Homo sapiens: one gene and its partners. The protein of the gene in region 3 purifies or fractionates together with the protein of the main gene of each other region. This does not show direct contact. Each region holds a gene or a part of one and is shown on either strand. Other genes may lie near its edges. The genes, in order: PEX11B, PDZD8, ABCA2, ABCB9, IGSF3, SNX14 and ADCY3.

Evidence for each region.
Region 1: the proteins of ABCA2 (region 3) and PEX11B purify together in Homo sapiens (affinity purification with mass spectrometry; one large-scale study listed by BioGRID and IntAct). This does not show direct contact.
Region 2: the proteins of ABCA2 (region 3) and PDZD8 purify together in Homo sapiens (affinity purification with mass spectrometry; one large-scale study listed by BioGRID and IntAct). This does not show direct contact.
Region 4: the proteins of ABCA2 (region 3) and ABCB9 purify together in Homo sapiens (affinity purification with mass spectrometry; one large-scale study listed by BioGRID and IntAct). This does not show direct contact.
Region 5: the proteins of ABCA2 (region 3) and IGSF3 fractionate together in Homo sapiens (co-fractionation; one large-scale study listed by BioGRID). This does not show direct contact.
Region 6: the proteins of ABCA2 (region 3) and SNX14 purify together in Homo sapiens (affinity purification with mass spectrometry; one large-scale study listed by BioGRID and IntAct). This does not show direct contact.
Region 7: the proteins of ABCA2 (region 3) and ADCY3 purify together in Homo sapiens (affinity purification with mass spectrometry; one large-scale study listed by BioGRID and IntAct). This does not show direct contact.

What each region holds. Positions count from the first base shown.
Region 1 is NC_000001.11:145,915,642-145,919,887, reverse strand, and holds the start of PEX11B (peroxisomal membrane protein 11B), read left to right. Parts: upstream 1-1,170; 5' UTR 1,171-1,199; coding exon 1,200-1,255; intron 1,256-1,358; exon of another isoform or gene 1,359-1,442; coding exon of another isoform or gene 1,443-1,456; exon of another isoform or gene 1,457-1,933; intron 1,934-2,071; coding exon 2,072-2,187; intron 2,188-2,869; coding exon 2,870-3,071; intron 3,072-4,246. UniProt on the Homo sapiens protein: Involved in peroxisomal proliferation. May regulate peroxisome division by recruiting the dynamin-related GTPase DNM1L to the peroxisomal membrane. Promotes membrane protrusion and elongation on the peroxisomal surface.
Region 2 is NC_000010.11:117,291,708-117,295,494, forward strand, and holds part of PDZD8 (PDZ domain-containing protein 8), read right to left. Parts: exon of another isoform or gene 1,757-3,787; intron 1-1,756. UniProt on the Homo sapiens protein: Molecular tethering protein that connects endoplasmic reticulum and mitochondria membranes. PDZD8-dependent endoplasmic reticulum-mitochondria membrane tethering is essential for endoplasmic reticulum-mitochondria Ca(2+) transfer.
Region 3 is NC_000009.12:137,014,620-137,018,406, reverse strand, and holds part of ABCA2 (ATP-binding cassette sub-family A member 2), read left to right. Parts: intron 1-55; coding exon 56-229; intron 230-331; coding exon 332-434; intron 435-505; coding exon 506-620; intron 621-714; coding exon 715-905; intron 906-1,060; coding exon 1,061-1,211; intron 1,212-1,282; coding exon 1,283-1,487; intron 1,488-1,668; coding exon 1,669-1,833; intron 1,834-1,935; coding exon 1,936-2,116; intron 2,117-2,232; coding exon 2,233-2,445; intron 2,446-2,535; coding exon 2,536-2,732; intron 2,733-2,810; coding exon 2,811-2,993; intron 2,994-3,309; coding exon 3,310-3,494; intron 3,495-3,596; coding exon 3,597-3,717; intron 3,718-3,787. UniProt on the Homo sapiens protein: Probable lipid transporter that modulates cholesterol sequestration in the late endosome/lysosome by regulating the intracellular sphingolipid metabolism, in turn participates in cholesterol homeostasis.
Region 4 is NC_000012.12:122,945,923-122,949,709, forward strand, and holds part of ABCB9 (ABC-type oligopeptide transporter ABCB9), read right to left. Parts: intron 2,908-3,787; coding exon 2,702-2,907; intron 301-2,701; coding exon 103-300; intron 1-102. UniProt on the Homo sapiens protein: ATP-dependent low-affinity peptide transporter which translocates a broad spectrum of peptides from the cytosol to the lysosomal lumen for degradation.
Region 5 is NC_000001.11:116,657,632-116,661,418, reverse strand, and holds part of IGSF3 (immunoglobulin superfamily member 3 isoform 2 precursor), read left to right. Parts: intron 1-3,787.
Region 6 is NC_000006.12:85,510,072-85,513,858, reverse strand, and holds part of SNX14 (sorting nexin-14), read left to right. Parts: coding exon 1-59; intron 60-3,787. UniProt on the Homo sapiens protein: Plays a role in maintaining normal neuronal excitability and synaptic transmission. May be involved in several stages of intracellular trafficking. Required for autophagosome clearance, possibly by mediating the fusion of lysosomes with autophagosomes.
Region 7 is NC_000002.12:24,917,314-24,921,643, reverse strand, and holds the start of ADCY3 (adenylate cyclase type 3), read left to right. Parts: upstream 1-1,406; 5' UTR 1,407-1,961; intron 1,962-2,058; exon of another isoform or gene 2,059-2,170; intron 2,171-2,459; 5' UTR 2,460-2,656; coding exon 2,657-3,331; intron 3,332-4,330.

The DNA of each region.
Region 1 (4,246 bases), on a different chromosome or scaffold from region 3:
AGCAGGAAACTAAGTCCCCAGGCTGCCCCCAGAAGTTTCCTTACACCTGAACGGGATCCAAGCGGGTTGAGTACTGCTGCCTGGCGGTCCAATCCAATGACCACAGGCAGGAAAGCTGCAGAATACGTGGCCATTAGTTTCAGGAACATCAGTGTCCGACATGCGATGTCCACAGCCAGCCATTGAACAGTGATATTCCAGGTGGCATCTAGGGGCATAACCACAAAAGTGACTAGTAAGTCGGCGGCTGCTAAATGGATGAAGAGTCTCCTGACCGGAGAGGGGCGGAGCTGGCTGGGTTCCCGCCGTGTCACTGACCACAGGACTGCCAGGTTCCCTCCAGCCGAAGAAACAAACAGCACAATGGTCACTCCCACTCGGACCTTGGCTGCTGCCGAGAAGGTGGGCAGCTCTGAGCCCTCCACCTCCACTCCTGATCCAGCCCAGACCTCCTCCCCCGCTGCTGACCCCAAGGGGTGCCGTTGCCTGCAGACATGGTGGCCTGGAGAGAAACTGAGGAGGATGAAGTGTGGGTATGAAGCGGTTAGCTTTGGCCACTGATTCTTCGCCCTCCTTTTCAGGATCTGGAGCTGATTATTGCGAATTTCGTTCACTAAAGCCTCTGCTTCTGGAGACTCTCCATCTGTTCTGGAGGAGGTCACTTGTTCAACTGTCAAGGTTCTGCAGGGAACGAAGATCTGGTACCAATCACGCTCCTTTTTCCTTGGACAGACCAGCCTGGGCTTCAGGCCTCTACTGACCTAGACCTCTTTAGCCCCTACAGCCCTGGATTCAGTCGGGGCCTGCGTGCATGTGTATTTGTGAGGTTCTGCCAGGCGCACACCTATGCCGGCGGCCTCCAAGACGTGGAGATCACTGCGGCGCTTTCTCGCCCCGCCCCGGCCCCTGCAGGCCCCGCCCTTGGTCATGAATATTTAAAGAAGAAGGTGCCGCTGGAGGCGTGCTAGGGAGTAGGGGTCGTCTGATAAGGGGAAGCTGTGACGCAGACACGCACAGTAATACACAGATGGAGGCTCAAAAGACACGAGTTTCGCGTCCTGAAATTCCGCTTCCAGGGCCAAGCTTTCTTTTCTGATACTGTTTGTCCCTCGCGAGGCACCGTTGGGTCGCGCAGTAGGCGTGACTAGGGGCGGGAAGTGGGGCGGGAGCAGGGCCGCGGAGCCTGGGCTGCGGCTGTCATGGACGCCTGGGTCCGCTTCAGTGCTCAGAGCCAAGCCCGGGAGCGGCTGTGTAGGTGCGGCCCGAATAGGAATGGGGGTGGGGCGGGGGAGGGATGGACAGAGGAAGACTCTAGTGAGGCGAAGTCAGTTTAGGCTACAGGGGGGTCAAGAAGGGTCAACTCCGGCTACGGGGGCCCGAACGGACCGTGAGGCGCAGATTTGAGCCGCTGTTGAGATGATTCCTTTCCGTTCGCGGAAGAGATGGGGAAACTGAGGCATGAGTGGGCCAGCGGGGAGGCCGCTCAGGGTTGCTGTGTCCACATAAGACCGACAGTGTCCTCACTGGGCGGTGATGGAATGAGGAGCATTCGCCCCACGGTGGATAGCCCCAGACTCTGCCCCCAGAGCTGAGGAGGCACTCCCAGTTTCCGTGTCCCCACACCGTGCTGCCATTCGGGAACTCCCCTGCCTCCGCCCTGGCGTTTGGTCTCCATTCAGCTAGAGGGCCTTGAAATCTCTCAGTTCACCTATTCTGAGGAATAAAATGCCCTCCAACTGTCTGCCTCCCCCTCATCGATCACGTACATGCTCACGCTGATGTGCTTGTGATGGACCCCTGCGGCCTGCACTGGCCCCTTCAGGCCTCATCATTGTCAAATCTCTAATTTGCTCAACATTCAATAGTGCTCCCCACCCCTTTCTAGACTCTTTTTTCTCCTTATGCCTTTCCCTTCCTCTGGCCTGGAGAAATGGTGAGATATGGGCATGGAGGAGGAAGGGGAGTGTTCTCAAACTGGGAAAGGGGGAAGTCTGTCTGTGCCTTTTGGAAGATAGTTTTGAGCGGAAGGTTAGGGAGGTCTCCACCTTACCTTGCCTGCCCTCTCCTCTAGGGCCGCCCAGTATGCTTGCTCTCTTCTTGGCCATGCGCTGCAGAGGCATGGAGCCAGTCCTGAGTTACAGAAACAGATTCGACAACTGGAGAGCCACCTGAGCCTTGGAAGAAAGCGTAAGTAACTCTGTCTTTCCTTTTATCCCCCAACCTTTCCTCCATCCCCAGCTCACCTTCCTTTGTCCCTCCTTCCTGTACCCTCTCTGTTCTTCTTTCTCATTTGGCTCTGCACTTACCCTCTGCATGAGTCCAGTTGAGATAAGAGAGCAGGGGTATGGAAGTAATTAGGCGGACTGGAGAGAATGGGTCAAGTTTGAGAAAACTAAACTGGCACAAAAATTAAATTTGAAATTGAAAAATGGACTGTTTCTGCTCTTTATTTTTTATTTTTTTGAGACAGAGTCTCTCGTCCAGGTCAGAGTGCAGTGGCGCAATCTTGGCTCACTGCAACCTCTGCCTCCCAGGTTCAAGCAATTCTCCTGTCTCAGCCTCCTGAGCAGCTGGGACTACAGGTGCCCACCACCATGCCGGGCTAATTTTTGTATTTTTAGTAGAGATGGGGTTACACCATGTTGGCCAGGCTGGTCTCAAACTCGTGACCTCAGGTGATCCACCCACCTCGGCCTCCCAAAATGTTGGGATTACAGGCTTGAGCCACCATGCCCAGCCTGTTTCTGCTCTTTAAAAAAATTGTCATTATTATTGCTCAACTTTTGCCCTCTTGCTTTCTCTGTTTCTGTTTCTTGTTATCTGCCTCTCCACTTACAAATCCTTGCTTTCCCTTTCTAATCTCCACAAGTTCTACGCCTGGGTAACTCAGCAGATGCCCTTGAGTCAGCCAAAAGAGCTGTTCACCTATCAGATGTTGTCCTGAGATTCTGCATCACTGTTAGTCACCTCAATCGAGCCTTGTACTTCGCCTGTGACAATGTCCTGTGGGCTGGAAAGTCTGGACTGGCTCCCCGTGTGGATCAGGAGAAGTGGGCCCAGCGTTCATTCAGGTTTGATATCCTGTTCTCCTTTAAGATTTTTTTTTGTAGCCTCTATATTGCATAGCTTGTCTTATATGAGGGAAAGATATCTTAGGATCTTTCCAGAGTATATAAGTCTTGATCAGTCACTTGGCTTCCAATCACTTAGATCTTAAACTATCGGAGAATATCAAATGGGGAGAGATGGAAGACAGATGCTCTTCCATAATGAATGACTAATATTGTGCAAGGTAAGATATTATATCACTTTAATTGTGCTTCTATACCACAGGTTATTCCCCCTCACTACCTGCTTACTCATTCATTCCAAAGATATTTATTAGATGCTTACTGTGGCGCAGGGGATAAAGCAAAGAGCTAAACAGATAATGTGCCTGCTCCCATGAAGCTTCTAGTTTAGTGAGGGAGTTAGATACTACAATGAATAACTTCTCATATATATTTGTGGAAAAGTATGCGGTATTATGAAAGAATATCACAAGGGGAGCTAATTTAGATTGGAAAATCAGGAAAAAACTCTTTGAGAAAGTAATATTTTAGCTCAGACCTGATGTCTGAGTAGGAGGAGTTAGACAAAGCCAACAGTAGCAGAAAAGACATTTCCAAACAGAGAAAATTGCACATTCTAAGTAAGGCTTTGAACTAAGAAAGACTTAAGGGAATTAGAGAAATAGAAAGAAAGCCAGTGTGATTGACAGTATTGAGTCCATCAGTTCAAATTTGAGAGATAGACAGGCACCAGATCTTTCATACAGGGCCTTTTAGGCAATGTTAATGTTTGTTTTATTTTATCCTACAATGGGACATTATTGAAGGATTCTGAGCAGGGAAATGACATGATTCAAATTGTGTTTAAAGGACATCTCTTTTTGAGATGTTGAAAATGGATTGCAGGCCGGGCGCAGTGGCTCACGCCTGTAATCCCAGCACTTTGGGAGGCCGAGGTTGGGGGGATCACGAGGTCAGGACTTCAAGACCAGCCTGGCCAACGTGGCAAAACCCCGTCTCTACTAAAATTACAAAAATTAGCCAGGTGTGGTGGCGGGCACCTGTAATCCCAGCTACTCGGGAGGCTGAGGCAGGAGACTCGCTTGAACCCGGGAGGCAAAGGTTGCAGTGAGCCGAGATCGTGCTATTGCACTCCAGCCTAGGTGACAAGAGCAAGACTCCATCTCAAAAAAAAA
Region 2 (3,787 bases), on a different chromosome or scaffold from region 3:
TGAGATGTCCTATTCTAACCCATCAAGATCATTTTGTTTTCTAAATAAACCTGCCATCCAATTTTCAGGAATGTGGATACTAGATTAACATCATCTGTGAATTAACAACAACATCATCATGCTATGTGTCCTCATTCAAACAACTGATTTAAAAAAAAAAAACAGGCAGAGTGCTACATCCCAGCTGTTGACAAGGATTCAATTAGTGTTTATGGCGCTCAATTACAAATCAGTCTAATTGTATTATTCTCCAGTCCACATTTCTTAAGTCCTATTCTTCAAGGATATCTCATGAGGGACTTTGCCAAATACCCTAATATCCAAATATATCACTGGCTGCACTGCTTTAATATATAAATCCCACTTGGACAGAAATTCAATTTTCCTACCTAATGATATTCGCTGGTAAAAGAACCCTCACTGGAAGTTGCTCTTTAATTTGGGTGTTAACAAATTTTGTAAAGTTATTTTAAGGAAAATCTTAATCATACTGTGCTCAAGAAATGGGATATGTGGTCAAATTCTGAATTACCTAAAGGTTTACAAAACACAAAGCCCCGCCAAAACACGTAATTTGTGTTTAAATCTCCTAAGACATTTGTCCAATCCCTGCCTTATGACACAGCAATTAATCACCTTACAATGTAAAGTGCTGTACACAATTAAGGCTTTTAACAAAACCCTTAACAACATATTCTCTCAAATCCAGGAACATAAATATATTCTTAATATACAGATTGCCAAAGCTGAAATTTAGAATGTAAGTTTTTCTAATTGCAGGAAGCTAATGATAGCAAATGGGTAGAAAACCTAAACAGTGTAAGTCTGAGTACTGTAAAGTTTAAAAATTAACACCTGCATTTGGAATGTGTTTTTTTTTTTTGTTATTTACTCTGCTTTTAAAAGTAGAATGGAGATTCAGGGGGTAGGATTAGGAAGTGAATAGAGGCTAGTGTAAGGTGTTAGTGTAATTTAGTTTCTTAATTTATTTTCTATCTATAAATCATATCTTTCCCTTTGCTTTTCTTAATTCAAATGATACCTGAAGTAAACATTCCAGATGCAAAAAAAAAAAAAGATAAGGTTTTCAGTAGCAATAATTAGGGCCAATATTACATTACCTCACTTTCTCCCCAATTTTTACTGATTATTAGTAAATACTCTTAATTTCAAGTATGTACAGGGAACAGAACATAAGACACTGTTTCTTTTACAAGCTGGTTTTTGTTTCCTTTTAAGCCTGCACCCCACTGACCTAATTTTAGATTTTAATTTCAGCATTCCCTGAAATGAAAATCATCACCTTAATTAAGTTCTGACATGATTCAGAAGTTTCAGAATATAAAAACACCTCTTAATTAAAAGCCTGGTGAAACAAAGCATTTTAAAATGAGTATTTCACAAAAACATTGTTATTTTAATATAAAATTTAAGATAAGGTTCAAGACCATGCAATGATACACAACTTTTGGAACAAAACTGATTTTCCACTAGGGTAAAACTACTATTTTAAAACCAGAATAGTACAATGATATATAATATATAATTCTCTCCCATATGTATGCATCTATATCTTAAAATTATTTATGACTATTGGATATGCCTGGCACTATAAAACATATGCCAAAATAGAACTTTTAAAATGACAATGTAAAAAACAAACATAAATAGAAACCCTAAATATTTTTCCTGTACATGGTGAAGCATGCTGTGGCTTCAACATGCATTCCCTGGAATATAATATCACCTGAGAGGGTTTGGCTTTTAAGATTTTATTACAGAAAATTTCCAATATATACAAAAGTACAGAGAACAGTAAAATCAACTCAGTGGTAGACCATAAAACATGGTAACAAATTCCTCCTATCCTTATAAGCATATCTCTTTGCAATGTAACTTTACTAAAGCTGCTGCTAGAGGTATAACTTGGTTTCTTCATCCCTCTCTCAGCAACCAATATAACTAGAAAAAAATAAGTGGAGGCACAGGCAACCTCAACATCATCAACCTTGATTTAACTGACACTTATAGAACATTATACTCAACAATGGCAAAATACATTCTTTTCAAGTGTACATGGTAAGTTCACCAGGATGTAGAAGGTCATGAAACAAATATCAGTAATTTTAAAAAGACAGAACTCTTACAAAGCATGTTTTCTGACCATAGTGGAATTAAATTACAAATTAGTAACTAGGAAAACCCCAAATATCTGGAGAGCAAAACAACACACTTCTAAATAATTCATGAGTTAAAGAAAAATCACAAGAGAAATCCAAAAATATTTCAAATGAAATGATGAAAATGCAACCAATCAGAATTTGTGGGATGCAACTAAAGTAGTGTTTTAGAGGAAATTTATAGTTTTAAATGCTTATATAGGGGGGAAAATCTAAAATTAGTGACCTAAGTCCCCATTTTAAGAAATTAAACCCCAAAGTAGAAGCAAAGAAATAATAAAGAACAGAAACCAATGGAACAGATACTTAAATAATAGAGAAATCAATAAAAGCTGACTCAATAAAATGACCAATAAAACTGGTAAGCCTATAGGCTAAACTGATCAAGAAACAAGAGAGAAGACACATATTACCAAATAAATGGCTATTACCAAAAAGACAAAAAAAAAAAAAAAAAACAAAAAAACAAATATTGACAAGGATGTGGAAGAAGAGGAACTCCTATACACTGTTAGTGGGAAAGTAGATTAGTTACAGCTATTATGAAAAACAGTACAGTGGTTCCTCAAAAATTTAAAAATAGAACTAGCAATGATCCAATAATCCCACTATTGGGTATATAGTCAAAGAAAATGAAATTGGTATGATGAAGATATACTTGCACTTCCTTGATTACTGCAGTACTATTCACAAGAGCCAAGCTATGGAATCAACCTAAGAGTCCATCAATGGATAAATGGATAAAAAATGTGCGGTATACAAACACAGTGGAATACTATTCAGCCACAAAAAACAAAACCCCAGAGAAAAGTCATTTATGACAACATGGATGAACCCAGAGGACATTATGTTAAGTGAAATAAGCCAGGCAGAGAAGGACAAATACTGTATGATCTCACTCATATGTGGAATCTAAAAAACTTGATCTCATAGAAATAGACGTAGAAGAGTGGTTACCAGAGGCTGGGGAGAATAGGGGGAGTGGGGAGATCAGAAGTGGCTATAAAAAGTTACAGTTAGGAGGTATAAGTTCTGATGTTCTATTGCACAATAGGGTAACTATAGTTAATAATGTATTGTATATTCCAAAATAGCTGGAAGAGATTATTTTTAATATTTTCACCACAAAGAAATGTTTGCGGTGATGGCTATGCTAGTTATCCTGATTTGATCACTTGAGCTGGGAAGGTGGAGGTTGCATTGAGCCATGACTGCACCACTACAGTCCAGCCTGGGCAACAGAGCTAGACCCTGCCTCAAAAACAAAAAAAACCCACCACCACCAACAAAACCCAAAAAAGACTGAAAATGAACTCAGTGGTAGACCATAAAACATGGTAACAAATTCCTCCTATTCTTATAAGCATGTCTCTTTGCAATGTAACTTTACTAAAGCTGCTGTTAGAGGTAAAACTTGGTTTCTTCATCCTCTCAGCAACCAATATAACTAGAAAAAAGAAGTGGAGGCACAGGCAACCTCAACATCATCAACCTTGATTTAACTGACACTTATAGAACATTATACTCAACAATGGCAAAATACATTCTTTTAAAGTGTACATGGTTATATCAATTATATACATTAAATTCATAATTATAAGCCTTCC
Region 3 (3,787 bases):
CCACGCCTTGGTCCCGCCCCTGCATCTTGGCCCCGCCCCAACCTCCCGGCCCCAGGTGTGATCTTCCAGACCCGGAAGGACGGCTCGCTCCCGCCTCACGTGCACTACAAGATCCGCCAGAACTCCAGCTTCACCGAGAAAACCAACGAGATCCGCCGCGCCTACTGGCGGCCTGGGCCCAATACTGGCGGCCGCTTCTACTTCCTCTACGGCTTCGTCTGGATCCAGGGTGAGGAGCAGGCCCGGAAGACCGGCTGGAGGATTCATGGGGGAGGACAGGTGTGAGGACGAGAGGGCCTGCCCGGCACCTGATGGCTGCCCCCACCCACAGACATGATGGAGCGCGCCATCATCGACACTTTTGTGGGGCACGATGTGGTGGAGCCAGGCAGCTACGTGCAGATGTTCCCCTACCCCTGCTACACACGCGATGAGTGAGTGCTGGGCGCCCGGGGCTGGGGCTGGGGCTGGGGCTGAGTGGCGCCTGAGCGCGGCCTCCCCGCAGCTTCCTGTTTGTCATTGAGCACATGATGCCGCTGTGCATGGTGATCTCCTGGGTCTACTCCGTGGCCATGACCATCCAGCACATCGTGGCGGAGAAGGAGCACCGGCTCAAGGAGGTGCGCGGGCCGGGACTCTCCCTGGAGGCGCGGGCTGGCAGGGAGGGGCGGCGTCCTCCCCGGGGCCTGCCCCAAGCCCCTGGCCCACCCGCAGGTGATGAAGACCATGGGCCTGAACAACGCGGTGCACTGGGTGGCCTGGTTCATCACCGGCTTTGTGCAGCTGTCCATCTCCGTGACAGCACTCACCGCCATCCTGAAGTACGGCCAGGTGCTTATGCACAGCCACGTGGTCATCATCTGGCTCTTCCTGGCAGTCTACGCGGTGGCCACCATCATGTTCTGGTGAGCGCGGGCCATGGTAGGAGGGACCTGGGGCAGGCACTTGCCCAGCAAGCTCACCCCACATCCTCTCAGAGCCCCCTGGACCCTGGCACGGGCCTGCCCAGGAGGCCGGGCGTGCGGGTGGATGACGGTGCGCGTGGCCCCTGCCCACCCAGCTTCCTGGTGTCTGTGCTGTACTCCAAGGCCAAGCTGGCCTCGGCCTGCGGTGGCATCATCTACTTCCTGAGCTACGTGCCCTACATGTACGTGGCGATCCGAGAGGAGGTGGCGCATGATAAGATCACGGCCTTCGAGAAGTGCATCGCGGTGAGGGTCGCGGGCAGGCGGGCGGCTGGGGTGCCGGGCCACCCCACGTGCTGACACCACTGCCTTCTCAGTCCCTCATGTCCACGACGGCCTTTGGTCTGGGCTCTAAGTACTTCGCGCTGTATGAGGTGGCCGGCGTGGGCATCCAGTGGCACACCTTCAGCCAGTCCCCGGTGGAGGGGGACGACTTCAACTTGCTCCTGGCTGTCACCATGCTGATGGTGGACGCCGTGGTCTATGGCATCCTCACGTGGTACATTGAGGCTGTGCACCCAGGTACTGGCCAGCCCTTGGAGGGCAGGGGAGAGGCAGGGGTCCCCAGCCAGGGTTGGGGACCAGCAGTCTGTGTCCACTCCTGGATGCAGCACGGGTGGCTCCCTGGGTGGGCACGTGGCCCACGTGGTGGATGGTCACCCCAGGCCCTAGGTCAGCCTCCCCTCCCCTCCCCGACCCCCAGGCATGTACGGGCTGCCCCGGCCCTGGTACTTCCCACTGCAGAAGTCCTACTGGCTGGGCAGTGGGCGGACAGAAGCCTGGGAGTGGAGCTGGCCGTGGGCACGCACCCCCCGCCTCAGTGTCATGGAGGAGGACCAGGCCTGTGCCATGGAGAGCCGGCGCTTTGGTGAGGCTGGCATCAGAATGGTGGCTGGGGTGGGCGCTGGGTTCAGAGTCCTGGGTGGCCTTGGCGCCGCCCCCACCCTGCTGATCCACAGCCCTGGTGCAGAGGAGACCCGTGGCATGGAGGAGGAGCCCACCCACCTGCCTCTGGTTGTCTGCGTGGACAAACTCACCAAGGTCTACAAGGACGACAAGAAGCTGGCCCTGAACAAGCTGAGCCTGAACCTCTACGAGAACCAGGTGGTCTCCTTCTTGGGCCACAACGGGGCGGGCAAGACCACCACCATGTGAGTGTCGGAGGGGCAGGGCGGTGGGCATCTGCTGACCAGAGCAGGAGTCCTAGTCAGGGCAGGGTGGGGCCCCTGCAGAGGGCGTGGGGTCATGACCCCGCCCACCTACCCAGGTCCATCCTGACCGGCCTGTTCCCTCCAACGTCGGGTTCCGCCACCATCTACGGGCACGACATCCGCACGGAGATGGATGAGATCCGCAAGAACCTGGGCATGTGCCCGCAGCACAATGTGCTCTTTGACCGGCTCACGGTGGAGGAACACCTCTGGTTCTACTCACGGCTCAAGAGCATGGCTCAGGAGGAGATCCGCAGAGAGATGGACAAGTGGGTGGGCTGGGCGGGGGGCGGGGCAGGTGGGCGGAGGCCCTGGGGCTCTGCATAGCAGCAGCCCCATGCCCCACCTCCCTGTCCCAGGATGATCGAGGACCTGGAGCTCTCCAACAAACGGCACTCACTGGTGCAGACATTGTCGGGTGGCATGAAGCGCAAGCTGTCCGTGGCCATCGCCTTCGTGGGCGGCTCTCGCGCCATCATCCTGGACGAGCCCACGGCGGGCGTGGACCCCTACGCGCGCCGCGCCATCTGGGACCTCATCCTGAAGTACAAGCCAGGTGAGTGGGGTGCCGTGTGGGCAGGGGTGCGGGCGGCGCCTCCCCTGCCCCCTGACCCTGGGTCTGGCCTTGTCCTAGGCCGCACCATCCTTCTGTCCACCCACCACATGGATGAGGCTGACCTGCTTGGGGACCGCATTGCCATCATCTCCCATGGGAAGCTCAAGTGCTGCGGCTCCCCGCTCTTCCTCAAGGGCACCTATGGCGACGGGTACCGCCTCACGCTGGTCAAGCGGCCCGCCGAGCCGGGGGGCCCCCAAGGTCTGTGTTGAAGCTGCCTGAGCTGGCTTCGGGCCACCTTCTCCCCGGGACCCCCACCTGAGAATCCACAATGGAGAGGCTGGGCCCTCACCGTCACCCGCTGGGCCCAGGATGCCTGCTGGGGCCTGGCCCGCCCTCTGCAACGCCCGTATCTTGGAGAGGCTGGGTCCTCAGCGTCACCCCCTGGGCCCAGGATACCTGCTGGGGCCTGGTTCTTCCTCTCCAATGCCCATATCTTGACCCAGTTGGGTTCCCATTGGGGGTCCCTCCTCCCAGCCCCTGAGTGAATTCCTTCCTGCTCCCACGTCCCCCACAGAGCCAGGGCTGGCATCCAGCCCCCCAGGTCGGGCCCCGCTGAGCAGCTGCTCCGAGCTCCAGGTGTCCCAGTTCATCCGCAAGCATGTGGCCTCCTGCCTGCTGGTCTCAGACACAAGCACGGAGCTCTCCTACATCCTGCCCAGCGAGGCCGCCAAGAAGGGGGCTTTCGAGCGCCTCTTCCAGGTGTGAGGGCGCACGGGTCGGGGGGCAGTTGCAGGTGGTGGAGGTGGGCGCACTCCTGCCTGGGCGTCCCTGCCGCAGCCTCCCCCTCCACCGCCCCTGCAGCACCTGGAGCGCAGCCTGGATGCACTGCACCTCAGCAGCTTCGGGCTGATGGACACGACCCTGGAGGAAGTGTTCCTCAAGGTGTCGGAGGAGGATCAGTCGCTGGAGAACAGTGAGGCCGGTGAGGGGCCTGGACCACTTGCTCAGCCCACCCCACCCACAAGGCCCCAGCTCGGGCCTGCGCTGTCACT
Region 4 (3,787 bases), on a different chromosome or scaffold from region 3:
GCTTGACACCAACATGCAGGACTGATGTCCTAGATCGAGGGCTTCCCCCATCTTTGCATCCCATCCCTCCACAGCCAGAGCTGCCTGGCCAGGGGCACGTACCCCGCTGCCCCAGACGTAGTACATGTAGGCAGCTGCCTCCTTCCTGTTCAGCTTGTACACCTGCTGCAGCTTCCGCAGGTACACCTCTGCCTCCTCCTCCTCATTGGCGAAGCTCCGGACAGTCTTCATGGCACTGATGGTCTCCTCCGCCGTGTTGCTCGCTCTGGCCAGGGCATTCTGGACCTCTTTGGAGAGCCTCTATGGACAGGAGGGGGACAAGAAGGAGAAGACCCCAAAACAGCCTCACTATGTACTGGAGCCCCCAGGCCTCTCTGGGTTTTTCCACCCTTCGCTGGCACCAGCTATATGCAAGAGGTTCCTAGGACAAAAAGACAAGATCTAGCCCTTTCTCCCCCATCCCCTTCTGGCTCAATTTGACACACTCAGGTAGTCAACTCCAGAGAGGCTCTTGGGGCAATGGTTTCAGCTCCTGAAGGATAGGGCACGGTGCTGATCGTTAAGTCATCCCCAGTATTCAAAAGAGGCTATTCATGACTGGACAGTTTTTGGTAATCCTTTCAGAAAAGGGGCCTCAACACCTGACCCTGTGCTGGAAGAGCAGGGGATGCCTTGGACGGTTGTTCAGGTTGTACACTATTTAAGAAACACCAACTATTAAAGGGGCACCATTTACATCATCAACATAAATTATGTTAGAGCCTGAGGGTTGATAAAGAGATTCCAGAACTCCCAGCCAAGTTCTACATGGTGGCAGGGGCCATGGGTTGTGAAATCTGCCCACACCATGTGCATGTCACCACAGGCAGAGCTGAAAAGTGGTCCCAAGTGTGCGGCCATCAGGCTGCTGTTCACCAGAGTCCTGGAAGAGGCCCCTGGGTGGAGCTGTTCACACTTTGCAGGAGTCACTATGCTGATTCTCAAGCCAGCCAGGAAGGCTGCCTGAGAGTCCAGGACAGGAGCATGCACTGGCATGTCCCATGACCATGTGTCACGCCCCAGCCGCAGGAAGCATGCAGGGTGCCTGAGTCATGTTTGGCCATGGGCGGTGTGTGTGGTTTGTGGAGATGACTCGCTGGCTACACACAACACATTCAGGCATGGGGTGGAAAACCCAAACAGAGCCTTCCTGAGGCCTCCCTTAGCTGAACTAAAAGGCAGGGCCTGCAGTGCACACAGAGGTGGGGGCTGAGGGGGAGCTCCAGGGTTTCTTGCTCCATCCCAGGGGCTGGTGGGAAGGCCGGAAGCAAGGGGTGGGGAGCAGCGTGCCAGAAATGGCTCAGACTCTAAAGAATAGATTTACTTTCTCATCTCAGTGAGGACGGTGGGGAGGCTCGTGACCAGGAACTTCGGGAAGAGGTCCTACCTGTGTGGCTGGAGAAGACTGTGGGGAGTGGCCTCACCGGGGGCTGGGTGGGAGATGGCTTCCTTTGCTACCCTGGTCTCAGGTCACCAACACCAAAGGCTCCAATGGAGCTGCGACAATGACTTACCCGGCACCACCTGGAGGCCGTCATGCATCCAAGCCCCTGCTCTAGAAGTACCCCACGTGGGCCTGGGTGACTGTGAGGGGGTTGCCTGTACCTGTCACAGGGTCACAGCCCTGCCTGTCTGAACCCAGCCTGTCTGTCCCTTAGGGCTCGGGGGCACCCGCCCATTCAGGAAGCAGGAGGAGGGTGAGGTCAAACCTGGCTCACGGCCCTAGCTCGGAAGCAGAAGCAGTGCCGTGGGGTGGCCAGAGGGGACAGCAGCCTGCCCATGATGGCATCACAGCGGGCCCGCGATGGCATCACAGCGGGCCCGCACCACCCCCACATACACACCAGGCACGTTCCAACCCAGGGCCTTTTCACTGGCTGTGCCCTCTGCTCAGCACATACCTCCCAAGATGCCCGCCTCCTTCAGACCCTTATTCAGATGTCCCCTTCTCAGCAAGACCTATTTAACTTGTATTTATTCATTCATTTTAGAGACAGGGTCTTGCTGTGTCACCCAGGCTAGAGTATAGTGGCACGATCATTGCTCACTACAGCCTCGACCTCCTGGGCTCAGGCGATCCTCCACCTCAGCATCCCAGGTAGCTGGGACCACAGGCATGCGCCACCAAGCCCAGCTAACTAAAAAAAATTTTTTTTTGTAGAGATGGGGTCTTGCTATATTGTCCAATCTTGTCTCGAACTCCTAGGCTCAAGTGGTCCTCCTGCCTGTGCCTCCCAAAGTTCTGGGATTACAGGCATGAGCCACCGGGCCCAGCCAGTAAATCCAATTTAAAATTGCAGCTACACCCAATGCTCCCAATCCCTCTGCTCACTTCATGTTTCTCCTTAGCACTGACCATCTTTTACTGTATTGTGGATTCTCATTCTTTATGCTGTTGGTACCTAGTATCTGTCTCTGACACTAGATACAAGTTCCAGGAAGGCAGGGGCCTTGTCTTTTTCACTGATGTATCCCAGTGCCTGGGACATAGCAGGTGGTCAATAATTATTTATTGAATGAGCGAAGAAATGAATGAATGAATGCAAACACAGCCTCAAGACCTGTCCTTCACTAGCCCTTAGTGGCCCCCTGAGCCCCTCCTAAGGGGATGTTTGGGGGCTGCCAGGGTGCACAGTCCCCAGCAGAGACAGGGCAGGCCTACCTTGTAGTACTTGCCGTAGATGTTGGACACCATCATGATGATGGGGAAGCCCATGAAGGTGACCAAGGAGAGCTGCCATGAGAGGCTGAACATGAAGACCACCACGCCCGTGACCTTGACTGTGTTCCGCAGGAAGACATTGATGTTCTGGGAGACCAGGTCGCTGACCATGGTGGTGTCCGAGGTCAGGCGGGAGATGAGGTCCCCTGGAACACACGCGGCTCAGCTCTCACCACAGCAACCCGGGCCTTGGGGGTGGCGGTGGGGGATGCTAAGGGGCCTCTGAGACAGACACTGGGAAGCCGGGCCTCCCTACCTGTGGGCGGGGTTGGGGGGTGGGGGAGAAGAGCAGATACCCCTCGAGGGCTACTCTGAGCCAATCCCAGTCATCAGCATCTTGCTTAAGCTTCATGACATCCCGCTGTACAGCGGAGGAGGCTGGGGCTCAGAACAGGAAGGCCCCCGTAGAGTCACACAGCCTGTCCGTGACTGAGCCAGACTTCAAACCCATGTCTCCTCCCTGTCACTGGCAGAGGGGGTAACTCCTCTTCCCTTCTAGGGAAATAACAACCTGGCTGGTGGCGGGCAGGAAAGCGCAGACACTTCTTACCTAAGTTGGACATTGTGCTAAGAGCTGTGTAAGGACCCCATGGGGTGGCTACTATCCGTGTTCCCATTTTACAGACAAGAAAACAGAGGATCAGAGAGGTGAAGTTCGTGAGTGGAGGAACCAGGGCTTCGACCCAGGCCGGTGTCTCTCAGAGCTTGGATCTTGGTGGATATTCTATCGTCTTCCCCGTTGTGGCCCCTGGCCCTCACCTGCTGACCCCCATGGGAGCAGGGTCTCTGTCGGCCACAGGCGTGGGTAGTCCTGGACCTGGTGGTTTCCATGGGGCAATGGAAAGCAAGGCCTTGGCTCCTGCAGGGACCTCGGGTGGCCTGGCCTGGGCCCCACAGAGGCCGCAGCCCACACCAAAACCTCAGTGAGCAAGCCAGCTCCCAGGACACAGGCCAAGCCCAGGGTGTTCCCAGCCTGAACTAACAGCAGGAGGAGAAGACAGAGGGCTGAGACCACCCACACGCCCA
Region 5 (3,787 bases), on a different chromosome or scaffold from region 3:
ACTTTACATAGCATGACCTTCTGTATAAAATTCTTGAAGACCATCTGTCATGTTCATTACTGTAGTCCCAGAACTCAGCCTTGTGCCATGCAAAGTAAGCAGGTGTTCAGTTATTTTATTTTTTTTGAGATGGAGTCTCACACTGTTGCTCAGGCTGGAGTGCAGTGGCACGATCTTGGCTCACCGTAACCTCCGCCTGCTGGGTTCACGCGATTCTCCTGCCTCAGCCTCCCGAGTAGCTGGGATTACAGGCACACACCACCACACCCGGCTAATTTTTTTGTATTTTTAGTAGAGATGGGCCTTCACTATGTTGGCCACACTGGTCTCAAACTCCTGACCTCGTGATCCGCCTGCCTTGGCCTCCCAAAATGCTGAAATTACAGGCGTGAGCTACCACACCTGGCCCAGTTAATTTTTTGATGAGTGAATGGTTTCACAAGGTAGGTGTTGTTTCTGTGTTGGCTTCCTTGATCAAGATAAGGAAATTCATGACACTTTTCCCTTGAAAACAATTATGTTCAAAGGAAAAGAGCTGGAATTTGGCAGAATCTGAATTTGAATTCACATTTGTCTGATTATAGAGCTTCTTAACCTTTTTTGTGTTATGGATCCTTTTGGCAGTCTGGTGAAGCCTATAGACCCCATCTGAGCATAACATTTTAAAATGCATACGTGGCCGGGTATGGTGGCTTACGCCTGTAATCCCAGCACTTTGGGAGGCCAAGGTGGGTGGATCACCTGAGGTCAGGAGTTTGAGACCAGCCTGGCCAATTAGCTGGGCGTGATGGTGTGTGCCTGTAATCCCAGCACCTCGGAAGGCTGAGGCAGGAAAATCCCTTGAACCTGGAGGTTGCCATGAGCTGAGATTGCGCCACTGCACTGCAGACTGGGCCACAGAGCAAGACTCTGTCTCAAAAAAAAAAAAAAAAAAAAAAAGAAAAGCATACATAGGCCAGGTGTGGTGGCTCACTGCTGTAATCCTAGCACTTTGGGAGGCAGAAGCAGGGAGATCACTTGAGCTCAGCAGTTCAAGACCAGCTAGGCAACATAGTGAGACCGCATCTCTATCTACAGTTTCCTGCAGAGATCGAAGTAAAGTTCAGTGTAGGTGGTTGTTGCTGGGGAAGACACTCAGGAAGAGGACATGGGCTGAGTGTTCAGAAATGGTCAGGATTTGATGGGGAGGGCATTCTACTCCCAATTAAGTCCTGATAATGCAAAGGCCTCAGCAGGCCTTTTACAGATTGGAGAAATGACTGTCAGTGGTTTTAAGGACCAGTTCAGGTGGGATGATGCTGGACACAGAAAATTGGTTTGAATTATAATGAGTTTGGGATTTAGGCTTAAAGTAAGTCCCCAGAGCCCAGGCCACTGCTGCTGAGCCCCAGCCTGGGAACTGGAGGAAGCAGTCCCAGTTGCTGACCTCTCGTGGTCCCTGGCTTTGGGTGTGCAGTGCATCCTTAGTTATGACTCCTTGATTAATATTTTTAGCTTCTGGCCGGGCATGGTGGCTCATGCCGATAATCCTAGCACTTTGGGAGGCTGAGGCAGGAGGATCACTTGAGCTCAGGAGTTTGAGACCAACCAGCCTGGGCAATATAACAAGACCTCATCTTACTAAAAATCAAAAACATTAGCTGGGCATGGTGGTACACACCTGTAGTCTCAGCTGCTTCAGAAGTTGAGGTGGGAAGAATTGGTTGAGCCCAGAAGGTTGAGGCTACAGTGAGCTGTAATTGCACTACTGCACTCTAGCCTGGGTGGCCCCCATCTCACACACACACAAAAAGAGCGAGACCCCGTCTCAAAAAAAAAAAGGGAGTTCCTCATTTGCCATGAGTGGACACCTGCTTCTTTACTGCTTCAAAGTGAACACAGCTATTCCTTGTAAAGGGTTGGTTTTTACTTTAAGGAAATCTAGAACACCTGTGTGTGAATGCCCCCTGATTTTCAAAGAAATGAGTGGTTGCATCAAAATCAAGCTTATATTTGTGGAAAATCACATGTTGCCAAATTCTCTCATCAAGAACCCTTTATTAACTGACTAATTGTGGGCCATGGTGGCAGGCACTTAACAAAGACCATGGCAGCAGACCTCCCTCAACTGGAACCCTCAGTTAAGTGGGATTTTGTTTTTATTTTTGAACTCCACCTTCAGAAGGGCAAAAATCACAAGATGTGGTAGCAAGGGTTTATTCTAGAAATTAGCTTCCAAGCAGTCGTCAGCCCAGTCTGTATGTCTTCCGCATCTATAATTATAGTAGCAGAAGAGAATGGTGAGCCTGGGGCACTGCAAGATCCTAAATCAAAGATTAAGGCATATTAACTCTACCCTGCCTGGAAAGTGGTCAGTTGTATTTTAAAAAGCTTTACAATAGGCTTTCTAATAACGAGAGTTGAAGCAAAGTTTCCACCTAACCCTGTAATTAAATTCACCAGAAGACCCCATTTCCCATTATCCAGACGACCAAGGCTTTGCCGAACACCACCCGTCCCTGCCCTCTAGGAGAGGTCATCCAAGGCCAGCAATGAAACAGTCAATCAATTTGCAAATGGACAGGAGGACACTGACAGGATGTGTTCACTGAGGGTAGGTGTCTACTGGGGGAGAGAGGCCAGGCAAGTCTGTCCTTGTTTTCAGTTTAGCAGGAGGAGTGAAGGGGAGGCCAGAGTAACTCCTGAGTGGTCAATCTGGAAAGGCCTTTTGGAAGGGCTGGAATTTTAGGCATTTTTCTTAAGTAAGAGGAGAGTGACGTCCTGTTGGAATTGTGGGGTAGAGGATATTCTGGGCACTTCTAAAGGGGTGGAGAAACCTGAATGTCCTGGGATGGGAACCCTAAGGGTGTAGATTTGTAAAAATTGCTGCAGTCAGTTGCCATGAGGACTGGGTATCTGGGCTAGAGACAGGTGGGCGACATCAGAAAGCTGTGAGTGGATATCCTGGAAGACCACTGAGAGGAGGAGCCAGGAATGGCACCAGACATTTCTGAAGGTGGGGGGCCCAGAGGTCGAAGCAAAGGGGGGCCTGTTTCTGTACCAAAGCAAGAGCTTCTGTATATCCATCAAAACATAATCAGGCCAGGCGTGGTGGCTCATGCCTGTAATTCCAGCACTTTGGGAGGCCGAGGCGGGTGGATCGCTTGAGGTCAAGAGTTCAAGACCAGCCTGACCAACATGGTGAAACCCCATCTCTACTAAAAACACAAAAAAGCCAGATGTGGTAGCGGGTGCCTGTAATCCTGGCTACTTGGGAGGCTGAGGCAGGAGAATCTCTTGAACCTGGGAGGCGGAGTTTGCGATGAGCCGAGATTGCACCATTGCACTCCAGCCAGGGCAACAAAAGCAAACAAAACAAAACAAAACAAAAAACTCCATTTCAAAAAAAAAAAAACCATAATCAGAGCAAAGACATTCTAACAAAACTGTGAACTCGGAGAAATGAGTAATGCCTGCTTCCCGTCAACTTTCAGGTGTCCAGGCCTTCTCTTTATTAAAACAGAAAAAAAAATCTGATACCAGTTGTGTGTTCTTTCTTTGATGTAGTGCAGTTTGCCCAGGCTTGCCTTAAGTTGGTGCTATTTTTGTGTATTTAATTCTGTTTTTGCATGTGACCCATTGTCTGATGCTTCAGAATGCAGTCTGCGGCCTCCTTTTTGATAGCAACTCTGAGAACACTGTCTCTGCTCTCGGCAGGGCACTGGGTACACCTGTGGCATCGCTGGTGCCATGGCATGAGGCAGGCTTCCCACTTCACTTCTCAAGGACCCATTTTATTAACTCTCCT
Region 6 (3,787 bases), on a different chromosome or scaffold from region 3:
CCAAGATAAGCAAAAAGGAGCAAAACAGACTTTTGAAGAAATGATGAATTACATTCCAGGTGTAATATTTAAGAAGTAACTTAATTTCATATAGATTAGCAGTCCGTTGAGGTCACAATGTATAGTAATTATTGAAGCTAATTTTTTACTGTGAGTTTTCATTTTACAAATAGTTGCAAAGATCAGTTAAAATTAACACACTAGTTAAATAATTCTTTCAGATGTTAGCACTAAGACTAAGATATTAGGACTTTAAGGCAAGGCTGTTTCTACTCACATAATAGCCAGATTCATTCAAAAATAACTTATAGTCAGACTGGTCAAAGTGACATGTGGGACAATTGAAGGCCTGTGTCCACGACACCATAAGAATAGCTCACTAGTGTGTATGATAAAAGATCAGAATTCATTCATTCCAAATTTATTGAGCACCTTCCATATTCCAGGCACTATGCAAAATGCAAGGCATATAAAAAATGCACTTGAGTAGGTCAGTCTAGCAGGAAGACAGGCATATAGACAAAACATACATGTGATAATAGAGGCATTTTCAAGTTACAGAGATATCACAAAGGAGGAGGATGGTCACCTCCTCTGTAAAGTTGGTAGGTTTGGGCCACTAAGGAAATGAGTGGTAGTAACCTCTTAACTGTGACGGGAAATAACAAGGAAGAAATGTCAAGGGATCAAAGCAGGTGATTCTTAGTTTAGAACATTTTGAATGAGAAGTGCCTATAAATTACTCAGGAGGAAGTGTCTGTTAAACACTTAGACACCGAGGTTCAAAAGTTGGAGAAAAGGTGGTATAGGATAGATTAGTAGAGATATGGGAGCCATGTGTGAGTAGATACTAAAGCATAGGGAGAAAGTATGGAGTAAGAAGAGAAAAGGGTGACTTCCAGTTTCTGGTCTGGCACATAAGAACCTGGCCATCATCACTCCATCCTAGTAACAAGCAAAAACCTGAATGAACTAAAAAAACTAAACAACTCTTAGATTCACCAGAGAGTGAGGTCATACGGCAAGCCACTGCCCCCCAAGGTTGGAGAGAATCATAGCTAGCTGCAGCAGAAACCCGTGAACTCAAAACCCCTGGAGAAGCCAGTGCTGAGCTAGGGAAACCTGAACTATAACTGACAAATTGCTACAGCCTTTTAAATCTCTTTTTAAGAGATTAAAAACTCCAGGGGAACCAAGTCATGGGGTTACCCATCCACATTTTTTTTTTTTTTTTTTTGAGACAGAGCCCCACTGTGTCACCAAGGCTGGAGTGAAATGACACGATCTCTGCTCACTGCAACCTCCGCCTCCTGGGTTCAAGCAATTCTACTGTCTCAGCCTCCCGAGTAGCTGGGACTACAGTCCTGCACCACCACGCCTGGCTAATTTTTGTATTTTTAGTGGAGATGGGGTTTCCCCTTGTTGGTCAGGCTGGTCTCGAACTCCTGACCTCAGGTGATCCACCCGCCTCGGCCTTCAAAAGTGCTGGGGTTACAGGCGTGAGCCACCGTGCCCAGCCCATCCACACTTTTTTTGTGAGTTTTACCTCCAGGGCCTTGACCAAGATCCCACAGTGAATATTGGAGAAAAATCCCCATGTGCTTCTGGCAAGGGGGCCAGAAGGGAACCATTTTGAAATACATCAGTCAGGGCATTCTGTTCTTGACAAGGCCCTACCCTCAGTAGAAAGTGACCAGAGCCTGACTGACCTGATGGAAGGGAAAGAACCAACTCTAGCCAGCCCTGGCCTTCCACATGGAAGAAGGGAAATACCCAACTCCAATACACTCTAGCCATCTTGTCCTGTGCAAGGGGGTCAGGGGGGCCTGAGAAGCATGTGTGAAGTTCACAGTTCAGTGGTACAAGCTCACTAAAAGATTGAGACCCCCTCCTAGGACTATAGAACCCTTCCTCTCCCTCCATATTTTATCACCACATTACTAAAGGCCTGTTTGCAGCAGTTCCTCTTAACTTGTGTGTCATGTCCAGTTATCAAGAAAAAAATTACAAGACATATTAAAGGCAAGAAAAAACAGTTTGACGAGAAAGAGCAAGTATCAGAACCAGAGTCAGATATGGCAGGGATGTTAGAATTATACACCAAGTGGGATTTATCCCAGGTATTCAAGGCTGGTTCAGCATTCATTCAAAAGTCAATTAAGGTAGTCCATCATCACATCAGCAGGCTAAAGAAGAAAAATCATGATCATAGCAGTAGATGCAGAAAAAGCATTTGACAAAATCTAACACCCACTTATGATCTCAGCAAACTAGGAAGAGAGGGGAACATCCTCAACTTGATAAAGAATATCTACAAAAACACCTATAGCTAACATCACACTTGATGAAAAACTTAAAAGCTATCCCACTAAGATGAGGAACAAGGCATGCTCTCACTACTGCTTTCAACATTGTACTCGAAGTCCTAGTTAGTGCAGTAAGACAAGAAAAGGAAATAAAGAGCATAGTGATTGGGAAGAAAGAAATAAAACTGTCTTTGTTCACAGATGACATGATTGTCTATGTAGAATATCCAAAAATTGACAAAAATGCTCCTGGAAATAATAAGCAATTTTACCAGGGTGGTAGGATATAAGGTTAATACACAAAATTCAGTTACTTTTCGTGTATATCATCAGTGAGCAAGTGGTATTTGAAATTAAAAAAAATACTATTTGCATTAGCACCCCCAAAAGTGGAATACTTGGGTAGTAATCTAACAAAACATGCACAAGATTTATATGAGAAAAATTGTAAAACTTTAATTAAAGAAATCAAAGAACTAAATAAATGGAGAGAGATTTTATGTGGATAGAAATATTCTGTTTTCAAGATGTCCGTTCTTCTGAACTTCGTCTATAGATTCAATGCAGTCCCAATCCAAATCCCAGTAAGTTGTTTTGTGGGTATTGACAAACATTTTAAAGTTTATATGGAGAGGCAAAAAGACCCAGAATAGCCAACTCAATATTGATTGAGAACAACAAAGTCACAGGATTGACACTACCTTTCTTCAAGGCATACTATAAAGCTACAGTAATCAAGAAAGTGTGATATTAGCAAAAGAACAGACTTACAGCAACTGTTCTTATTAGCAAAGGAACAGTTTACAGCAAAACTGTAAAACTTAGAGGATAACATGGGAGAAAATGTAGATGACCTTCTGTTTGGCGATGACTTCTTAGTTGCAACACCAAAGGCATGAACCATAGACGAAATAATTGATAATCTTTACTTCATTAAAATTAAAAATTTTGCTTTGTGAAAGACACTATAAAGAATGAAAAGAGAAGCCACAGACTGGGAGAAAATATTTGCAAAAGACGTATCAGATAAAGGACTGTTACCAAAAATGTACAAAGAAATCCTGAAACTCAACAATAAGAACACAAACAACCTGATTTTAAAATTGGCCAAATATCTTGACACCTTACCAAAGAAGATTACACACAAGCATATGAAAAGATGTTCTACATCATATGTCATCAAGGAAATGCACATTTAAAACAATGAGATACCACCACACACCTGTTAGAATGGCCCAGATCCAGAACACCAACACCACCATTTGCTGGTGAACATGTGGAATTCTCATTCATTGCTGGTGGGCATGCAAAATGGTGTAGCCACTTTGGAAGACAGGTGAGCAGTTTCTTACAAAACTAAGCACACTCTTACCATGAGATCTGGCAATTATGTTTCTTGATATTTACCCAAAGCAGTTGAAAACATGTCCACCCAGAAACCTGCACATGAATGTTTATAGCAACTTCAGAATTGCCAAAAC
Region 7 (4,330 bases), on a different chromosome or scaffold from region 3:
AATTACCCCGGGCTTGGTGGTGTGTGCCTGCAATCCCAGGTATTCAGGAGGCTGAGGCAGGAGAATTGCGTGAACCTGGGTGGTGGAGGTTGCAGTGAGCTGAGATCACAACACTGCACTCCAGCCTGGGTGACAGAGTGAGACTCAGTCTCGAAAAAATAAAAAATAGAAATAAAATAAAACAATGGGGCAAAGTTTTGCTTTATTTAAATTACCAAACTCCTATATCTGATGTTAGGTCCCCTACCTTTGGAATCAAAGCCCTGCGAAGTATGGGCTGAAGGTGGCGCCTTTTCAGACAGAGTGTGAGGGAACGGTAGAAACAGCAGTGGCAGGATCGATTCTCTAATGGATCCATTCCCCGAGGGATGCAAGGTGATGCCTGAGGTTCTGGAAGGGGTGCCCGCGGATAACTCTCAGGGGCATGGGGTGGCAGCTCCATCCAGGGTCTGGATAGCCAAGTTTCTCTCCCCTCTGTTCATTCCTTCAGCTCTCCCCAGGGGAGATGACCCCCTATTGCTGCTGGCTGTCCTCAGCACTTACCTTCCCACACATGCTTTTGTCCCTTTTGTCCCAAAACATTCTATCTCTTTCCTCTTCCTTTATTTAAATTCCCAAAGCCTGTAGTTGATCTTAGCACGGTGTTCTGTCAAATGCAAGGAAAATAATTTATACTATGGTGTAAGAGACTGATAGGTTTAACTATTCAAAGGAGCATTCGCATCTTTAAGGGACAGTTTGTGAACTCAAACACATCTCAAACGGGTAGAATGTGCACGGGAAATCTCTTCGAAGCAGGGTCTCAGGAACTCTTCCAGTTCCACGTGTGTAGTGCCCACCGGGCCACCGCCACCCGCCTCCTGGGAGCAGGACAGGGCTCCGCTGCCGAGCCCCTCTGCGGAAAGCTCAGGCCCGGCGCTCCGGAGTCTGGGCTCCCGGGGTGGGCGGGGATACTTAGGCCCCACGTGCCCCGCGGCGGAGCGGTCCCCAAACCTGAGCCCTGGCCTCTGCCGGCCCGGAAGGAAGCCGCGGCGGAGGAGGGGGCGGCGGGGTGCCCCGAGCGCGCCTCACCTGCGGGCGGGCGCGTCCCGGGCTTCCATCCTCCTAGACCGGGCCTCCTCGCTGGAAGGGGTGGATTCGCCCCAGCCCTGCCGCCCACCGCCCACCGCCCACGCCCGCGCCCGCGCCCGCGCTTCCACGCAGCCATCGCCCCAGCCCGCCGCCCGCGCCGGATCGGGGGCCGCCCGGGCCCCTCCACCTCTCGCCCGCGCGGGTCCTGGGACCGCCGCCCGGCGCCTCCCTCGCCGCCCCACTCCGGAACGCGCCGCCGAGAGGGCGGAGACTGGGGCGAGGGAGGGGCCGCCCCGCCCGCCTCCCGCCTCCCGCCTCCCGCCTCCCGGGGCCTGGAGCGCGCGTGGCCCCGGAGCCGCCGGCGCCGCGCGGGGAATAGCTGTGCAGCACGCCGAGCCCGGACTCGGCTGGCTCGGCTCGGCGCGGGCGGGCGAGAGGATGCTGGCGGGCTTCCCCGGGCTCGGCCCGCGCTCCCGCCGGGGAGGGCCCCGCGCGCGCCCCTAGCAGCCGCCGCCGCCGCGGGTGCAGGGGAGGGGTCCGGAGAGCCGCGCTCGCCGCCGCCCGCGCCTGCCGGCCCCCGCACGGCCCCTGCCCCTGAGCCTCAGCCCCAGGGCGGGCGCGCTGGGCCGGCGCCCACGGATCTCCCAGCCCTCGTCGCCGCCTCCTCCTTCCCCCTGCGGCCGGGCGCCCGCGGATGCTGAGGGGCAGCCCTGCGCCTCTCCCGGTCGGATCCCGGGCCTGACGGCGGGAGATCGCGCTCCGGCCGGGCCCCGAGGCGCTGCCGGGGCGGCGCGGCTCTGCGGGGAGCAGCCCTCGGGCGCGCCGAGCTCTCCCGCCCCAGCCCGCGCGGGGACCGTCCCGGAGCACGCGGTGGCCGAGTTCCCGCACAGGTAAACGCAGGGGCAGGGCCAGGCTTCCGGGGGGGAAGACAGCGCCCCGAGCGTGGGAAGGGGGCCGGATCGGAGCCCGAGCCTCCAAGGGTTTGGTGGAAAAAGGAAGTAAACAGAAGGAAGGCTCAGGAATCCCCCACGATGGTCCTGATTTCTTTCCGGCACATTTTATTTACAGCTTCTAAGGACTGGGCCTGGAGGGAATTTAGGTGAGGAAGTCGGGGACTGAGAAAGAAGAGATGACAGAGAGAAACCGGTTACCAGGGATGGAAAGGCGGCTAGGCCCTTCCACAAGCCAGGGACAGGAAATTGAGTGTCTGGCGTGGACAGGACTAAGTGTGCCTGCGGTGGGCGGTGGTGTGAGCCGGGGGTGGCAGGGAAGGCCCTGGGTTGGGAGGCTCTTGCAGCAGAGATCCTTTTATGAGGGTTAGGGCGGGTCATGGGGAAACCGCAAGGTAGGAGGGAAGAGGTGCTTCTACTCAGCAATGCCCTTTTCAGTTCTAGCTGATCAGTGCTACCTGTGCTCTGGAAACCCGCTCTGCGTTCCTGCTGGAGGTGGCCTCCCCTCCGCCCCAGACAAGAAGAGGCCCTCAGCCCTCCCCCGGTCTCAGAGAGCCCTGAGAGGAGGCCCAGTCCAGAGCTCTTCCTCCGTTCCCAGTCCACTTCTCTAGGGCCAGTAGCAGACACCAGCCAGTATGCCGAGGAACCAGGGCTTCTCCGAGCCCGAATACTCGGCCGAGTACTCAGCCGAGTACTCCGTCAGCCTGCCCTCCGACCCTGACCGCGGGGTGGGCCGGACCCATGAAATCTCGGTCCGGAACTCGGGCTCCTGCCTGTGCCTGCCTCGCTTCATGCGGCTGACTTTCGTGCCGGAGTCCTTGGAGAACCTCTACCAGACCTACTTCAAAAGGCAGCGCCACGAGACCCTGCTGGTGCTGGTGGTCTTTGCAGCCCTCTTTGACTGCTACGTGGTGGTCATGTGTGCTGTGGTCTTCTCCAGCGACAAGCTGGCTTCCCTCGCCGTGGCTGGAATTGGACTGGTGTTGGACATCATCCTCTTCGTGCTCTGCAAAAAGGGGCTGCTCCCGGACCGGGTCACCCGCAGAGTGCTGCCCTACGTGCTGTGGCTGCTCATAACCGCCCAGATCTTCTCCTACCTGGGCCTGAACTTCGCGCGTGCCCACGCGGCTAGTGACACGGTGGGCTGGCAGGTCTTCTTTGTCTTCTCCTTCTTCATCACGCTGCCCCTCAGCCTCAGCCCCATCGTGATCATCTCCGTGGTCTCCTGTGTGGTGCACACGTTGGTCCTGGGGGTCACCGTGGCCCAGCAGCAGCAGGAGGAGCTCAAGGGGATGCAGCTGCTGCGGGAGGTGAGTCCTGCCCACTGTCCCCCCACAGCGTCCTCTCCTGCAGCTCTCACCAACTTGGGACCTGTTGGAGTTGCTGTTTGCTTTGCCTTTGAGTCAAAATGTGTCCTGGGGGCCTCCGGGGCTCTCACCTCTCTCCCTAGTCCCTGCCTTTTCACCCCTGTGCCATTACCCGGAGTCTGCCTGTGCTTGGCCCCAGGGAAAGGAGGATGTCAGGGCATTGGGCCTCAGGGCCACTCTTCACCTGTGCCCAGTCTAAGTGTGTGACAGGAAGGCCCACCCAGGGCTGGTCTTGAGGCAGCATTGTCCTGGCCATTCCCTGTCAGTGACCCTGGCAAGGAGGACCTCCCTTGGGAAGAGGGCTCCTTGATTCCCATCTCTCCCCAGCACTGACTAGCTGTGTGGACTCAGTGCCCCTTTGTCAAATGGGGATAACGTCCGCTCTGCCTGCATGACACGGTTGTTGTCAGGATTGCAGGAGATGTGGGGGAAAGCGCATTAGGATACGTGAAGGGCTGCACAGAGGGAAGACGCAGTTGTCATATTTCCTGCCTCCGGGAGCTCGGGGTGCCTGGGGAGTTCTATGAAGTGGAGAATGGTGGTCTCCCCACTGAAGGTGTGGTGTGGGGATGCAAATGGGGACAGTCATGCCGGCCACTGTGACGTAGGGTCTCCTGGTCCTAAAGCACGCATTCTGCTGGTCCTGGAGCACGCTTTCTACTGGAAGGGGTGGAATTTCGGCCTCAGCTTAACTATTATAGTATTGTGTTCCCACCAAGTGCCAGGCCCTCAGGGGCTGCAGAGACCAGGGGACCTGAGGGACAGTAGGCAGTGTGTGTCCCTGGGGAGCCAGCAAGCCGGTGACCAGAGAATGAGGCGGAGATGTCTGCATCTGGGTTTGGTGCCCAGCCTGCCAGCCTCGTGCCAATGATGGTCAAGAGAGGCTCCCCCACTTCCTGCCCCTGCAGTGCTCTGTCTGGTAGAGATGTCTTAACTCCCACG